Linked DNA regions of Homo sapiens: region 2 is linked to region 1. Evidence: fine-mapped expression QTL. Tissue or cell type: skeletal muscle. Region 1 holds a variant in brackets; the other region holds the start of a gene. All regions are shown on one strand. Distances are between the middles of the regions.

Region 1 (8,101 bases):
AGCAGCAGCAGTACAAACCCACACCAGGGTCCCCGGGCGCCAGCGCGCTACCCCATGGGCCTTCAGGCTGCTGCCTGGGACGGGCTCGCCAGCTCCATCACCCACCAGACTCCTGGGTCCCACTCCAAGGGACAGGGCAGAGGCCATTGTGGGGCCCGACAGTGCCACCTGCAGCCAGACTGAGGGAGCCCAGGAGGGAGGGAGGTGTCTGCCCCCAGGCAGGAGCTGCCAGCAGGAGATGGAGCTGGGAGGCGGGTGGGCCAGGGAGGTCCTGAGGGGCAGTTAGGCGGGCAGCAGAGGGGTAAGGGAGCAGGCCCGCAGCCTCCACCCCAAGAACAGCCTGGCTTGGCCTGGGTGGGCGACAGACTCATCCACCCCAGGCTCTGCCTTCCACCCACCTGCGGCCACAGGGCAGGAAGCCCGGGCTGGTCCCCTGCAGCCCTGGAACCCACCCTCCCCACCCCCACCCTCCCCACCCCCACCCCCAGTGTCTGGAGCACGGTTCCTCGGTGCACACATGCGCCCATGCACACACACACATGCACGCACACCTCCAGGGACACCCATGAAGCAAAAGACGGCTATGCCTGCTAGGACTCAAGTTTCCCTGGCAGCAAGAAGAAAAGATGCTGTGAAATTCCCATGAGGGAAAACGCCAGAGAGAAAACTCAAGGTGTAGCTGAATCAAAAGGGAAAATTCTCGGCTTGCAGCTCCTTAAAGGTCAAGGGAGGCTGGTGGAGTCTTCTGATAATCCCCTCTCCCCTGGCCTCCCCAGCAGCCCTCCCCGCAGCACTCAGGAGGGTCTGGCTCATAGCAGCCCAGGATGGCCAAGAGCAACTGGGGGCTCCGTGCCCTTCACGGGAGCACAAGCTCCGAGACCCCCACCTCCCACACCTGCACCGGAGACTGAGTGTGTCCAAGGTAAACAGAGGCAGGAGAGGGTGGGCGGAGCGATCCCCTGAGGAAACAGCCAGAGATGAGACCATGGGGGACCCCCATCCTGCCTGGGGCAATGGGGGATTTCCAGACTGCCGCGGGTCATGGGCAGGTCAAGGTCGCAGTCCGGGCAAGCGCTCCTTCGCCCCGCTGCTCTTGGGGGCTTCACCTGGGTGCAGGATGACCCCCCTTCTGACAAGCGGAGCTGCAGAGACCCTGGGGGACACCCCCTTCCCTAAGCCTGAGCAGAGGCCTCTGTGGCTGCCACGCACCTGCGCTGGCCCCGCGGCACTCCTCAGGAGGGCCTTCCTCTCGCCGCCTTGGAGCCAGTGCAAGCAGCTGACCATGTCCCATCAGCTCACGACGTCCTCGGGAGTCCCTGCAGCCCCAGGAACATGCTGATCCCCCATCTGGCTTCCCTGCTGCAGTGAGAGCCAAAGCTTCTGCTCTTGGCGGTGGCCCACAGTCCCCTAAACACCCCAACACTGCCCTGCAGGGTGTCTGATGGGTTGGGGGCAAAAGGGGACCCGAAGCCTCGGCCAGGTCCCAGCCCGGCACATGGGTGCACAGGACTGAACAGTGGGCACTTTCCCAGGCAGCGTGGGCCAGGGCCCTCGAGGGGGGATGGCCACTCCACTCTCTTCTTTGGGGTGCACAGCACAATCCGAATGACCCAGAAGTGCCCTGGGACCAGCAACTCTCTCAGGGCTGGCCGAGACCCAACATCCTCCCACCCCGGCCTGGAACTCTCTTCTAGGGGCATGTGGCATGTGATGCTGCTGGCGACACTGCGCTCAGCCTCGTGGCGACGCCTGTGTTTCGTGCCTGGCCCGGGCGGCTCAGGAGGGTGGGCCCTGCAGGGGCTGCCACAGGTGCAGGTTGGGGAGGGGATGCCTGGAGGGGAACAGCCGCAGGACCGGCCTTGGAGGGTCAGCTCGGCTAAACCACCCCCACCCCAGGTTCCAGGAGGGTCTTTTTATTTATTTATTTTTTATTTATTTTGAGACGGAGTCTCACTCTGTCGCCCAGGCTGGAGTGCAGGGGTGTGATCTCCGCTCACTGCAAGCTCCGCCTCCTGGGTTCACACCATTCTCCTGCCTCAGCCTCCCGAGTAGCTGGGATTATAGGCACCTGCCACCACACCCGGCTCATTTTTTGTATTTTTAGTAGAGACGGGGTTTCACCGTGTTAGCCAAGATGGTCTCGATTTCCTGACCTCATGATCCAACCGCCTCAGCCTCCCAAAGTGCTGGGATTACAGGCGCAAACCACCGCGCCTGGCCCCAGGAGAGTCTTGATCTATGGCAAGGAGTGTGGCCTGGGACAGTGGCTTCTATGGGGCACAGCCTTCAGGACACCGACCCCAGGCCACCACCCCACCCAGGAAGACCCTGGAATACAGGGTCAAGTGGAAAGCTCGGACCCTCCCCACACCCACCTGCACTCCGGCCCCCCCGGCCTGGGTGACAGAAGGGGCTGCGGGAAGTTGGCGGGGGGAAGTTGCAGGTGCTGGCTCTGGTTTCAATCCGCATTGCCAAAGAGATTTTGAGGCGCTCAGTCTCTTCAGATATTCTTAGCCCCGCTGCCTGAGAGCACCACAGAAGCCAGCCTTTTGAAGCATGTTTCTGCCTGTTATTGACACCAGGCTGTTCACGTCACTTTGACACACAAATCAAGCTACCAAAGTAGCAACAGACCCAGAAAGCTTTAATAAAATGCTGTAAACCTGAGTACATTGACACTTTCTTTAAAATCCCACTGGAATACTCTGAAATGGTTGCAATTAAGCGGCTGCAGATGCAAGCGGAACAGTGTAATGAGGGAGACAGACGGGGCGCAGCCTTGGTGATCTCTTGGCTGGGAGCCCTACCTACCCCAAGGGCCCGAGGAAGGGAGAGGGGGGAAGCATCTCCCAGGGGCCTGAGTAGCTTCCTGAACCCCAGCCCAGGGACCAGAGGCCAGACACTCTTTCCAGTTACCTTGTCCCCACCCCCCTGCAAGTTGGGAGGGCAGCCTGGAGGGGTAGTCAGCTCCCACAGCACACAGTGAGGATCCAAGAGGCTCCGGCAAGTCACCAAGCCTCTCTGTGCCAGGCCCCTGCTGGGAGCTGGGACACGGGGTGACCAGGGCCCCTACCATCTGCTGGGGAGGACTGATAGCCCGTAGTAGACGTTGGCTAATGCTGGGGTCACCTGGTCTATGCCTGTCGCAGGCATGGGGTGTCGTGGGAACATCTGGGGCCCCGCCTCAGCCCTGGTGAGAGAGCAGGGAAGGGGCCCTGCGTGCTAAGCAGGCTGAGCTGACTGTGGGGGCGAGTGGGGAGCTCTGGGGGGTTGAGGGCATGCCCTGCAGCTAGAGCCTACACTGTGGCTCCTCTCAGGCCCCTCATGCCAGGCCCCACCCCTGCCATCCCCACCCCTTCCTGGGCAAAAACCAAGACCAAGGTCAGGGCGCTTCCGGAATTCCCTTCCCGAAAGAACTGTTGCCTACTCAACGCTGCCCCGCCCCAGCTGTCTCCCCTGAGCCATCTCCCACGACGGGTCATGGGGAAGGGTAGACATGGGAGTGGCAGCTGGACGCCTGCGGCACCAGGCGAAGCAGAGGAGGGGTGCAGTGAGGGGCATTCGGGGAGAGGTGCGGGATGCCCTCAGAGGCTGCGTCCTGGATGAACCAGCTCAGGAGAGGCCCTCGGCTCCTGGCGCATCCCTGTCAGTCCCTCCGACGGCCTGTGGCCGGGCCCCACTGCCGCCTCCAGGGAGCCACTGTCGCCTCCTCCCGCAGAGGCCCCTCTGACCTAGCAGCAGGCACCCCCGGCCCTGGCATCTGACCCATAGCAGCCCCAGCCCCAGGGTCTCCCCCAGCCCAGGCTCCCACGACAGCCAGCAACCCCCGGGGCCCCTCACAGGAGACCGAGCTGCTGGCACTGCAGTCCTTGGCACTGAAGTCCTCACGTCTGACTCACTGGCTGGTCCCCCACCTCCCATGTCCCTGACCCCCCTGCTTCTGTCTGGCTGGGCCTCCTTGCCGGCTGCTCGCCACTTCCCGCCCCACAGGGGCTCTCTGCACAGGGCAGACGGTCCCTATGGAGGCACAAACCCGGTCACACCATGGGCGTCCCGCTGCCCACGCACCCCTGGGAGGCCACGCTTTGCCCCAAGTCACACGGGGTCCTCTACAGGGCCTTTCCCTTGGGCTCCATCTGCGCTTCGGACGCAGGTGAGGATGCGCACAGCTCGCCCCTTCCTGCTCATTGTGCTTTTTTTTAACGAAGAGGTACAGCATTCTCCCCCGCCCCCCCC[TC/C]TCCCCGCTTACAACTCCAACCCAGGGAAGGGCCAGGCAAGGCGGAGCTCCCACGCCCTCCAGGCAAAGGCTCCGTCCTCCTCCAGCGCGAGGACGGCCTGGGAAGATTCCAGGCATGAGCGCGGCCCCGGGAAGGGCGGGAGCGCCACCTAGCGGCCCTTGGAGGACAGTGCAGGGCAGCCCCGCGGAGCACCCAGCAGGTTCCGCAGTCACAAGCAGAGCCCGGTGACACAGGGGCACACACACGCATGCATACTCACACTCACTCACGTGCGCACTCACATGCGCGCGCACACGTGCACATTCACACACACCCCCACACGGCCTCGCTGCGACGTGCACAGGGAGCCAGGAGAAGGTCCTGGAACTCAGCCCGCCACAGCAGCGCCCACGCTGCACCCGGCACCTCCCGGGCAGGGGCAGGTCCACCACACTGCACACAGGCCTGCAGCGCCACGCCCTGCCCTCCTAACTGTAGGGCCTGGCCCAGACGTGCCAGGGCGGAGACTGCGAGGGAGCGGCTGCAGGGTCATCCTGGCCAGGCCCCTCTGGGCAGCATGGACAGTGTCCCTTCACCAGGAACGTCTCCACTTGGCTGTGAGGCAGCACAGCCTGGGCAGCTCAGGAGGCTCAAGACCACGCTCCTGGCCATGGGGACACCTGGGGCCGCTCACAGCTCAATGGGGGGCACTCCGGGGTACAAAGCGCAAGCTCTAGGGGCCTGGGAGCTTCGGCTCTGGGGGTGCACATCCCCCACCCCAAAGCTGGTGGGTGACCCCAGGCGGTCCGGAAGATCTCCAGCCGTCATAGGCCGACCTTTGCGGCCTCACCTGGTGGGGCCCCTGCCACGGCGCCCAGCCGTGTACCCGGGATTGACTCCCTCCCGAGGGGCTCTCGGTCCGGCCGGCGGCAGGGCCAGTGCAGACACTCACCAGGACTTAGGCTCCCCAAAGTGCAGGTAGTTGATGCTGTACAGGTCCATGTCCTCGGTGTGCCAGGCGAAGGTGGTCTTCCACATGCCGAAGTACAGGTAGGGCGTGTTCACGCCCTCGATGATGGTGCCGCACTCGCGCTCCACCATGTCCAGGATGGTCCGGAGGCTCCCGATGTTCCACTGGGCCACGTCCTGTGGGGCGGCAGAGCAGCGTCGGCAACCGCCCGGCCACCCCCAGAACCTGCGAGCCCTGGGGTGCAGGCTAATTCTCCCCAGAGTCCCAGGGGTCGCTGCCCATCCTCCTCCACCCCAGTATCTGCGGCCCCCCCAGGGGCCGGTCATACCCTGCAGACCAGGGGCTGGTCTTAACCTGTGTGAGATTCTTGCCCAGGCTGGAGTGCAGTGGCAGAATCATAGCTCACTGCAGCCTCAACCTCCCAGGCTCAGGTAATCCTCCAGCCTCAGTCTCCTGAGTACCTGGGACTATAGGCTATAGGCGTGAGAAACCACACCTGGCTAATTTTTACTTTTTTCTGTGTAGAGATGAAGTCTCACTCTGTTGCCCAGGCTGGTCTCGAACTCCTGGGCTCAATGGTCCCTCCCACTTTGGCCCCTCCAAGCGCTGGGGCTGCAGGCATGAGCCGCCATACCCAGCCCAGACACCTTTTCTGAAGGGCTCACCGCCAGCTTGGCCCTTCCAGGAAGGGCCCCATCGCACATGCCAGCGTGCACCAGGCAGGCAGGGCCTGTCAGATTCCACTGAGCTGCGTGCTTCCTGCTGGGTGGAGGCCTTGTTGTGAAGCCTGCAGTTTGGGAGTGCATAATTAACACGCCTCTAAGTCAATGACACGGAAGGAGAAAAACAGTCACCACTTGGGGCTAACCCAGCGATGGTACCGGAGCCAAGGCCCAGTGACAGCCCTTCCACAGCTTCTGACCGAGGAGACGAAGACAGTTTTCAGAACTAGGCAAACAAGGACGGAATCCCCACCCACCAGGCACATCTATTCTTAATGCCACAAGCAAACAAACCCCGTCCTGTCCCAAGAGCTCATAAAATACACATTAGTCACTGCAGTCCCCGGAGAGGCTCATGGCCTGCTGAGAGGCCGAGAGGAGCCCAGACACACATGAACGTGAGCTGCTCTCACAGCCTGAATCCACCCCCCACCAGCTGTTCCTGCACCTGCACGACCGGCCCTCAGACTTGGCAAGACCAGCGGTTCCTTTGCAAGGTGAGCCCTGGCAGGAGCCCAGAAGAGGTGAGGAGGGAGGCAGTGATGAGACCCAGATGGGGCAGAGGGAGGCCCCAGGCACAGGCTGAGCTGGGCGCAAATTCATCCTGGGACCACAGCAAGTCGCTTCTCTGCTGTGGGCTGTTTCCCCCGCTGTAAAAGTAGGCTAGTGCATAGGCTAGGCATGGCAAACACATGGCAAGGAAGCCCTGAAGCTTCCCCTGGCACCTGTGGCAGGTCGGCCTGGGCTGGCACAGCCTGCGTGCGGCTGCAGAGTCCCTCCCGGGTCATCACTACAGGCCAAGTGCAGGCAGTGCAGGCCAGCCAACCCAGAGGCTCTCATGCACTGGAGTCTGAGGCTGAACTTTCACTTGAAAACAATCAGGCAGGATCCGTAAGAGAAAGACAAGCCCCAGTCAGAAAGAAAATACTTGCAAGTCACAACTGATAACCAAAATACACAGCAAACTCTCAAATTTAACCAGAAGAAAACAAACAGCATGGTTAAAAAACAGAAAAAGATGGCCAGGCGCGGTAGCTCACGCCTGTAATCCCAGCACTTTGGGAGGCCAAGGCAGGTGGATCACCTGAGGTCAGGAGCTTGAGACCAGCCTGGCCAACATGACAACACCTCGTCTCTACTAAAAATACAAAAATTAGGCTGGACATGGTGGCTCATGCCTGTAAATCCCGGCACTTTGGGAGGCCAAGGCGGGCAGATCACGAAGTCAAGAGATTGAGACCATCCTGGCCAACATGGTGAAACCCCATCGCTACTAAAAATTCAAAAATTAGCTGGGCGTGGTGGTGGGCACCGTAGTTCCAGCCTGGTGACAGAGCAAGACTCCATCTCAAAAAAAAAAAAAGAAAGAAAATTAGCTGGGTGTGGTGGTGGGCGCCTGTAATGTAATCCCAGCTACTTGGGAAGCTGAGGCACAGAAATGATTGAACCCAGGAAGTGGAGGTTGCAGTGAGCCTAGATCACGCCACTGCACTCCAACCTGGGCAACAGAGCGAGACTCCATCTCAAACAACAACAACAACAACAACAAACTGGGCAAAAGACATGAAGAGAGCTCACCAAGGAAACACACAGATGGCAAACAGGCATGCAAAGGGGCCCCGCCGCGAAGGCAGCCATCGGGGGAATGCAGATTGAAATGGCAATGAGACAGCGCAACACGCCTCCCAGGGTGGCCAGGATGCACAACACCGACAACTCCAGATGGGGGCGGGGAAGCGGGGCCCTGGGAACGTTCATTCGCTGCTGCTAGGAGCACACAGTGGGACAGGTGGGCGGGAGGACAGTTTGGTGGCGTCTTAAAAAACTAAACGTCCTCTCACCACGTGGTCCAGCAACTGTACTCCTTGGTATTTACCCAAAGGAGATGAAAACTTCTGCCCACATTGACCAAACTTGGAAGGGTCCTTTAATAGGTGAATGAGCAGGCACACTGTGGTGCACCCGGACCATGGAGTATTATTCAGCGCTGAAAAGAAATGAGCTCTCAAGCCATGAAAAATGGAGCAAACTTGAACACCTATTGCTTGGTCAAAGAGGCCAATGGGAAAAGGCTACCGACTGTAGGATTCCAGCTCACGGCATTCTGGAAAAGGCTGAGCTATGGAGACAGTGAGACATCAGTGGTTGCCTGGGGCGCAGGAGAGGGATGGGGGAGAGGGAGGAATGACGAG
Region 2 (8,101 bases), 80 kb after region 1:
GGAGGAAAGAAAGGGAGCTGAGGCCCATCACGGTCACAGCACACCATGAGCTACTGCAGGGCTGAAGGCCAAGTCCAAGGTTCTCACTGCGGGGTTGACAGTGCTTCCCAGGGGACATTTTTGGTTGCTACCGCTTAGGGGACAGGGTGCTACTAGCATCTGGTGGGTGGTGGTCAGGGATATTGTTCACACTCACCCTACGGTGCCCAGGACAGCCCCGCCACAGAATGTCCCAGCCCAGAACGTGGATAGGGCAGAGGTGGGGAGACCCTGACAGGGCAGAGGGCCTTGCTGTGTAATAAACCGGCTCCGAACTCAGAGCTCCTGGCACCCTGCAAGCTTCAGCGCCTTTTACCCGCTTTGATCCTCACAACCACCTGGGAGGGAGGTGTTCCCATTACACCCATTTTACAGAGAAGAAAGCAAGGCCCAGAGAGGGGAAGTGACTGCCTCAGAGGAGGGATCTGAATCCAGGTCTCTCCAACTCTGAAGCCTGTGTGGGGCATGGGACAGAGGGCAGAGATCCAGAGACGTCGTCAAGACCACCAGATGAGAACGGAGCCCAGGCTGGGCCCCTGCTCTTCTGTCCGGCATCCTAAGCCAGGAACAGAGACCCCTGGGGCAGGAAGGGGGAGGGCTGTGGCATCTGAAGACCCCATCGAGCTGCCTCATGGCAGGTCCCTGGAGCTGAGCCAGGAGCCTAGGGTGAGGCTGTGGATGAGGACGGCCGATCTGTCATGGCGGTGACCAGTGCAGGCCTGCGGAGCTCCCCCCGCCCCGAGCCCCCACCCTGTTCATCTGCTCTCCGTCCCCTCCTGCCCAGTGGGCTCCGAAAGATTTAGTGCCCCCGATCTGCTTTGTCACTGAGCAAGTGACTGGGTCAAGGTCACCCAGCTCTGAACCCCCAATTCCGCTCCCCGATCCAGGGAACAAAGCCACCTACAAATGCACCTCAGGCCCTCAACAGCCTCGCCTCCTCCTGCCTGCTCCCTGAGCTGGGCCCGAGGGCAGCGGACTGCACACCACCATTCCAGCTGTGACCAGGCCCTGGGCAGCCAGCTCACCCTTTCCCCCACTACACTCTAAACCCACAGGAGCCAGGGACTCCTCCCAACCTGTCCCGGCATGGCACTCGGCACTGGAAACCTAGCAGCCCCAGACCAGGTGAACGCATGACCCCAAGGCACGTCCCCACAGGTGTCAGATGGAACCGAGGACAGATGGCTTCCCCAGAGCTGAGGCTCCTCCCCGGCTCATCAGGGAGTGGGTGGGGCATAGGACAAACGGGCAGGAAACCAGCAGAGGAGACAGAGAAATTAGGAATTAAAGTACAGGCAGAGTGGTCAGGTGGGAGAGAAGGACACAGAGGACGGCCCCTGGCCACCCCAGAGGGCTCCTGCAGGACGGGACAGGGACTGAAGACAGGGCAGGAGGCTGAGGAAGGGTCTCTTCCACGAGACAGAAAAGTACAACAAAGGCCAGGCGGGGTGCTGTGCGGTGGCTGATCAGCTATACCTTTAAGCGCCAGCAGTTAACATCTTGTTAGCAGCCCCCTCCCCAAAGAGGAAAGGGTTAGAAAATGCGAGCAAACGGATTGTTACTAAGACATATATATTTCAGGTCTCAGCAACTAAACACACACGTGCACACGCAGGCACCCGCAGCTCCTGACACAGTAGACGCTTCCACCAAAACAGCCTGTACACAGACACCCGTCTGTGCGGCAGAATCTCCGTTACCCCCTTTTCCTCCCCAGCGGTGACCTCCTCTAGGCCAGGACAGTCTGACCCGTCCTGGTGTCGCCGGCTCAAGGAGGGGGAGCGCCCGGACCTGCCAGGTGTCCAATCAGACACACGGAGACGAGGCTGGCAAGTCCCAGAAATCCTCGGCTCAGACAGAAGTTGACTCTACCACGGCTTTACGCTCCGACCTTCAGGGTTTCAAAACATAAACTGCAAAGCGGAGAGAGGATGCCCACTGCTTCAGCAGGGGCTGCAGGAGAAGGCTGACCCCGTGTGTTGACAAACCCTCCTGGTGGCTCATAAGGAAGCTATTATTGGAGAATTAGGGGAGTCATTAGCTCCCATAACGGCAGTGATAAAAGCCCATAGGAGTCGTCTAATGAGCCTGCTTTAGGACTGGTGCTGTTTTTAGGAGCATTCTCCAGCCCGGGGACATTCTGATAAATGGCCATTGAGGCAGAGGACTGGGGCAGGGCACCGATCCCTTGAATTCAGTCCAGTATCCAGAGATCCCAAGACAGTGCAGGCACCCGGTGGGACCCAAAGGAACTTGCTGAATACACGCCCCAGCCAGAAACACATGGAAAAAGACGCTCTTCACATATGACAGGATCACTAGGCTCCACGGAGCTGAACCACCTTCTCACTAGTTTCACAACTCGGGGAACACTTCCTCACAGGGTGCTGGTAAATTATTAAAACAGAAGCATCCTCCCCCAAGCAAACAGATGGGATGCACCCAAAAGCAGTCCATGCCTCCACTGCCCCCAGGGGCGGAAAACATGCCCCTTAAAACCTTCCACCGTGCCCAGGTGGACAGAGTCCCCCGTCCTGCCTGATTGTCATGGCCACCACTGAGCGCAGACCTGGGCCCTGGCAGACCCCAGGTCAAGCAGATTTCAGAGCGAGTCCGTCCCCAGCTCCCAGGGGGATGTCCACGGGGGACACAGAAAAGGGGTCTCGGCGGAAGCAACTCCTCAATTCATTTCTCTAGAGCAGGGGCTTCGTTCGAGATGGCGATCAGGCTGGAAGGGGGAGGGACGGAGAGACTCGTGGAGGCTGCCGTTGCATAGCAAGATGATTTTTTTCTAAAATCCAGATTGCATATGCTTATGGCGGGGTGGGGGTTTCGGGTACGTACAGGGGGGCAAGTTTGGAAGCTACCAAGGCATAGCAGGTTGACCGGAGGTGGGGGCAGTGCAGGAGCAATGATAGGCATTTAGGGGGCATCCCTGGGTGTCCAGCTGGGGGGCTTCCCCTTAGCCCCCCTGGCGCCCAAAGGGCCAGAAACGCAGGCGGGGGTTACCCAGGGGCTGGGGTCTTTTTCCTTTTTCTTGCTTTCTTTCAAAAATAATAATAATAATAGGCCGAGGCTTGTCCCGGGTGATAAAAGGGCCCGGCCGGGGCCACCCACGCTGTCATCTTTTGTGCGGGGCGCCGGGGCCGTCTGTGCCCAGCCCCCGCGCGCCCCCGGCCCGGGAAGGGGCCCCCGCTCCCGCCCCTGGGCGCGCCCCGCCATTGTCCGGCCCCGCCGCCCCCGCCCGAAAACCAGCGGGCGCCCCCGGGCCGGGCGGTTAACGCCCCAACCGCCCCGCCGGCCCGGACAAAGCGCGAGGCCCGGCCCGAGCAGGCCGCGCCCGAGGCCTGGGCCTCGAGTCCCGGGCGCGCCCGCAGCCCCGAGCCGCGACGCGGGGGCGGCCATGGCGGCGGGGTCCGCGCTCGGACACGGCCGGGCGGCCTCCCCGTGGGCTCACCTGAGGCGGCGTGCGCGGCCCGGTCCGGGAGCAGCGGCGCGCTCTCCCCCGCCCTCGGCGTCGCACCCCCAGGCCCCGCTCGGGCCGGGCCCCGCTCGGTTGCTGGCGACCGAGCCCTCCGCAAGCGCTCGCGGGGGGGCTTATAAGGCCGCGCGCCAGCTCCGCCCCGACTGCCATTGGCTGCCGGATCCACGCCCGAGCGCCCATTGGCCGGAGCTGACAGCTCCGCCCCTCCCCTCCGCCGGGCCCATCAACACCGCACGGCCCGCCCACCGCGCGCCGCGATTGGGCGGGGACAAACGCCGGCCTCGCCTCTTCATTGGCAGACCGGCGGGGACACGCCGGCGCCCACCCACGTGCCCGCTGACCGGCTCTGTTCTCATTGGAGGGGGCGCACGCCAGCCAAGGCTGCCGCGACCAACCCGACGGCAGCTGGGCCTTGGATTGACAAGGGAGCCTCAGGGCCCGCCCGACGACCGCACAGAGAGGAGCCAGTATTGGCTTGAGGGGCCAGCCCGAGGCGCGGACAGGCTGGGGCAGGTGCCAATCACTGCCCGCAAGCTCCGGGCCCCGCCCTGGTTATCAGGCGGCGGCTGAGTACGTGAGACCCAGCACAGCATCAGCACCGGCCGGGAACGTGCAGGCTGGAGGTTCGAAACCCGTGGCCGGAATGTGGGCTTAGCGTTCCCCAATTTGCAAAGTGCCAAGCAAGGAGACATAGCGATCCGTTTTGCAAAGGAGGAGAACCGAGAACATAGGGTAAAGCAGCAAGAGCCTCCACCCCGCCACCGTAGGTCTATTCCCATCACAATCAACAAACCTTTGCCAAGGGGCAAGGCCTTCGGAATAGTTAGGGTCCCTCTCCCCGAGTTCCCTAAAATGTATGGGAGAGAATGAGCTTTGGTGCTTTCTGACCTGGATTCAAAGCTAAGCCGGGCCCCATGCCTCACTGTGGTTGACCTCCAGCAAAGTAACCTCGCTGAGTCTGTTTCCAACTGTGCAATGGATATGATGGTAGTGGCCACACCCCGTCTACCCGCCTCTTGAGAATGTTGCAAGGATTAAGTGGGATGAGGCACGGAGAAAGATTTGACCCTGTGACTTCACAAAATGAGCATTCATTGTGTACTGGACCACGCAGGGGTGTGAGGCATGCCCCCATTTGGAGTGGCAGGAGTGTAAATTGGGCAATTTGACATTTTCTAATAACATTCTAAGTGCATCCACCACCCGATAACCCAGCCAGCAGTTCTTCCTGGAGGTGATGTACCCAGAAAAAAGGTCTGGAGCTTACACAATTCAAGAATGCCGGCGGCAGGGCTGTCTGCAACTGTTTCCAATGTTTTGCACTAACTATCCATCAGTGGGGGATTAGAGAAGTAACTTAATAGCAATCAGTACTCTGGAATACTTACTATGTAGCAATTGAAAAGGAGGCCAGGCCCGGTGCTGTGGCTCGGGCGACTCACACCTGTAATCCCAGCACTTTGGGAGGTCGAGTCGGGTGGAACACCTGAGGTCCAGAGTTCGAGACCAGCCTGGCCAACATGGCAAAAACCTGTCTCTATTAACAAATACAAAATTAGCCAGGCATGGTGGCGCATGCCTGTAATCCCAGCTACTCCAGAGGCTGAGGCGGAGGTTGCAGTGAGTCGAGATCACTGCACTTCAGCCTGGGCAACAGGGTGAGACTCTGTCTCAAAAAAGGAAAGAAAAGAAAAAAGAGAAGGCCGATCTGTTTGCAAACATGAAATATCTCCCAACCGCTGAGCTAGGGACAGTGGTCCAGAATCCTGTACTCAATAAAATAAATATGGAAACACACACAGAAACCGGTATCATGAGGTTAAGAGCACACAAGCTTGTCAATGCACAGAAAAAGGTACTCCTAAACTGAAGAAACGAACTTAATCCTTGGGGAGAGAAGGAAAGCTGCACACTGGTAAAAAGAGAAGTCAAAGGAGAATTTAAGAAGCTCTGGGTGTTTTAAATTCTTATGGGACCATATTCATATATTCCACATGGAGTTGAGATTTAATTTCAGGTCATGCCTGGAATCGCAGCACTTTGGGAGGCTGAGATGGGCAGATCACTTGAGCCCACGAGTTTGAGAACAGGCTGGGCAATATAGCAAGACTCCGTCTCTACCAAAAAAATTACAAAAGTTGGGCGTGGTGACACGCGCCTATAATCCCAGCTATTCGGGGGCTGAGGCGAAAGGATCACCTGAGCCCGGGGAAGTGGAGGCTGCAGTGAGCCGTTGATTACACCACTGCACTCCAGCCTGGGTGACAGAGTCAAACCCCGTCTCAAAATAAAAAGTAAAAACAAAATTTAAAAACAGGCTGTTGCCCAGGCTGGGTGTAGTGACTCACATCTGTAATCCCAGCCCTTTGGGAGGCCAAGGTGGGAGGATCACTTGATCCCAGGAGTTTCAGGCCAGCCTGGGCAACAGAGCGAGACCTCTTCTCTACTAAAAATAAAAACCGAGTTGATTGTGCGGGCACATGCCTGTGGTCCCAGCTACACTGGGGGCTGAGGGAGGATCACTTGAGCCCAGGAGGTCGAGGCTGCAGTGAGCCATGATCACACCACTGCACTCCTGGGCAACAGAATGAGACCCTGTCTCAAAAAAAAAAAAAAGTGCAATCATGAAGGGAAAGAGTCCCCACCCCACGTACCACATACATAGGGCTTTTTGTTCTACTTCCAAGTATATTCTCTGAGACAGTGGGGGGTGTTTAGATTTCACAGACAATATAAATGTTTTTAACCGAGGAACCCAAATGGGTTCTCCACTTTATTTTGCTTAGACAAAGTTTTCATGCCATCTCTTATGAGAAAAACTTAACATGATCATAGAATCTAGACGGTAGGTCTGAGGGTTCACCATCCGATTCTTTCCAAATCCGATTCTTTCCAAGTTTTGGAAACTCTTCATATTAAAATGTTAAAAACACACTAGAATTGCTGTCAGATAAGTAGAAGTCCTCATCCTCCAAAAAGGAAGGAAATGCTCTTTAGAATATTTTAATGGGCAGATTAATTTAGGCAACACTCACCTAATTGCCCTGGTTTTCTTCCATCCTTTGCAGTCAGATGCAAATCTCACAAAGGACTGGGGCAGGGAATGCTTGGGGACCTCCCCCTAAACAAGACCAGGAGGCTTGGCTTGGCTTTCAGACGTCAAGGAACCCCCAGTTAGCAGGCCCAATGCTCAATTTCTGACTGGTCTCCCTCAATCTTTCTAGACAGGCAAGGTGTGGAGCGCAAAAATGTTCAATGCTTCAATAGATGCCCCTCCCCTTATGGGTTGGTCTGCTGCATTAACAAATTGAAATGGGAGGCCAGGTGCAGTGGCTGTAATCCCAGCACTTTGGGAGGCTGAGGCAGGAGGATCACTTGAGCCCGGGAGTTCGAGACCAGCCTGGCCAACATGGCAAAAACCCCATCTCTACAAAAAGTACAAAAATCGGCCAGGTGTGGTGGTGCATGCCTGTAGTCCCATCTACTAGAGAGGGGAAGCCCGAGAATTGCTTGAATCCAGGAGGAGGCAGCTGCAGTGAGCTGAGATTACACCACTGCACTCCAGCCTGGGCCATGGAGACTATCTCCAAAAAAAAAAAAAAGCAGTTGGGGACTGGGCTTCATGGCTCACGCCTGTAATCCCAGCACTTTGGGAGACCGAAGAGGGCAGATCACTTGAGGTCAGGAGTTCGAGACCAGCCTGGCCAACATGGTGAAACACCGTCTCTACCAAAAATACAAAAAAATTAGCCAGGCATGGTGGTGCACACCTGTAATCCCAACTACTCCGGAGGCTGAGGCAGGAGAATCACTTGAACCCAGGAGGTGGAGGTTGTAGAGCCGAGATTATGCCACTGCACTCCAGCCTGGGCAACAGAGCAAGACTACATCTTAAAACAAGTCAAACGGGGATTATAGAAAGGTGGCCCATCCGTACAGTGGAATATTACTCAGCCATGAAAAGGAATAAAGCTCTGACACAGGCTACAATGCAGATGAACCTCGAAAATTCCATCCTTAGTGACAGAAGCCAGACACAAAATACAGTATAATTCCATTTATATGAAATGTCCAGGACAGGCAAATCCATAAGGATAGAAAGAGGATTCGTGGCTTGCAGGGCCTGGGGGAGGGACACAGGGCAAGACTGCGGAAGGGTGTGAGGTTTCTTTTTGTGTGGATGTTAAAGTTCTGTAATTAGATGGTGGTGATGGCTGCATAACTGTATTGACTATACTAAAACCACTAAGCTGGCCAGGCATGGTGGCTCACACCAGTAATCCCAACACTTTGGGAGGCCGAGGCGAGTGGATCACCTGAGGTCGGGAGTTCGAGACCAGCCTGACCAACATGGTGAAACCCTGTCTCTACTAAAAATATGAAAATTAGGCGGGCATGGTGGTGCATGCCTGTAATCCCAGCTACTTGGGAGGCCGAGGCAGAAGAATCACTTGAACTCGGGAGGGGGAGGTTGCAGTAAGCAGAGATCTTGCCACTGCACTCCAGCCTGGGCCACAGAGCGAGACTGTCTCAAAAACAACACAGTAAAATAAAACCACTGAACTGTATGCTTTAAAA

What was found. PIP is the estimated chance that this variant, and not a neighbour inherited with it, causes the effect.
Region 2: it holds the start of KDM4B, and the variant in region 1 is fine-mapped to the expression of KDM4B in skeletal muscle (GTEx, PIP 0.99).

The regions. Positions count from the first base shown.
Region 1 is chr19:5,044,738-5,052,838 of GRCh38, reverse strand. KDM4B (lysine demethylase 4B) reads right to left here. Exons shown (of 23, transcript NM_015015.3): 6 at 5,170-5,363. Among named protein-coding and RNA genes, the nearest start is that of KDM4B, 80 kb to the right of the region's middle. RefSeq lists enhancers at 336-835, 3,326-3,928, 5,422-6,225. The variant TC/C (reference allele first, on the strand shown) is at 4,237.
Region 2 is chr19:4,964,626-4,972,726 of GRCh38, reverse strand. KDM4B (lysine demethylase 4B) reads right to left here and starts at 3,614. Exons shown (of 23, transcript NM_015015.3): 1 at 3,497-3,614. RefSeq lists enhancers at 1,051-1,120, 2,125-2,174 and silencers at 3,441-3,740, 4,051-4,150.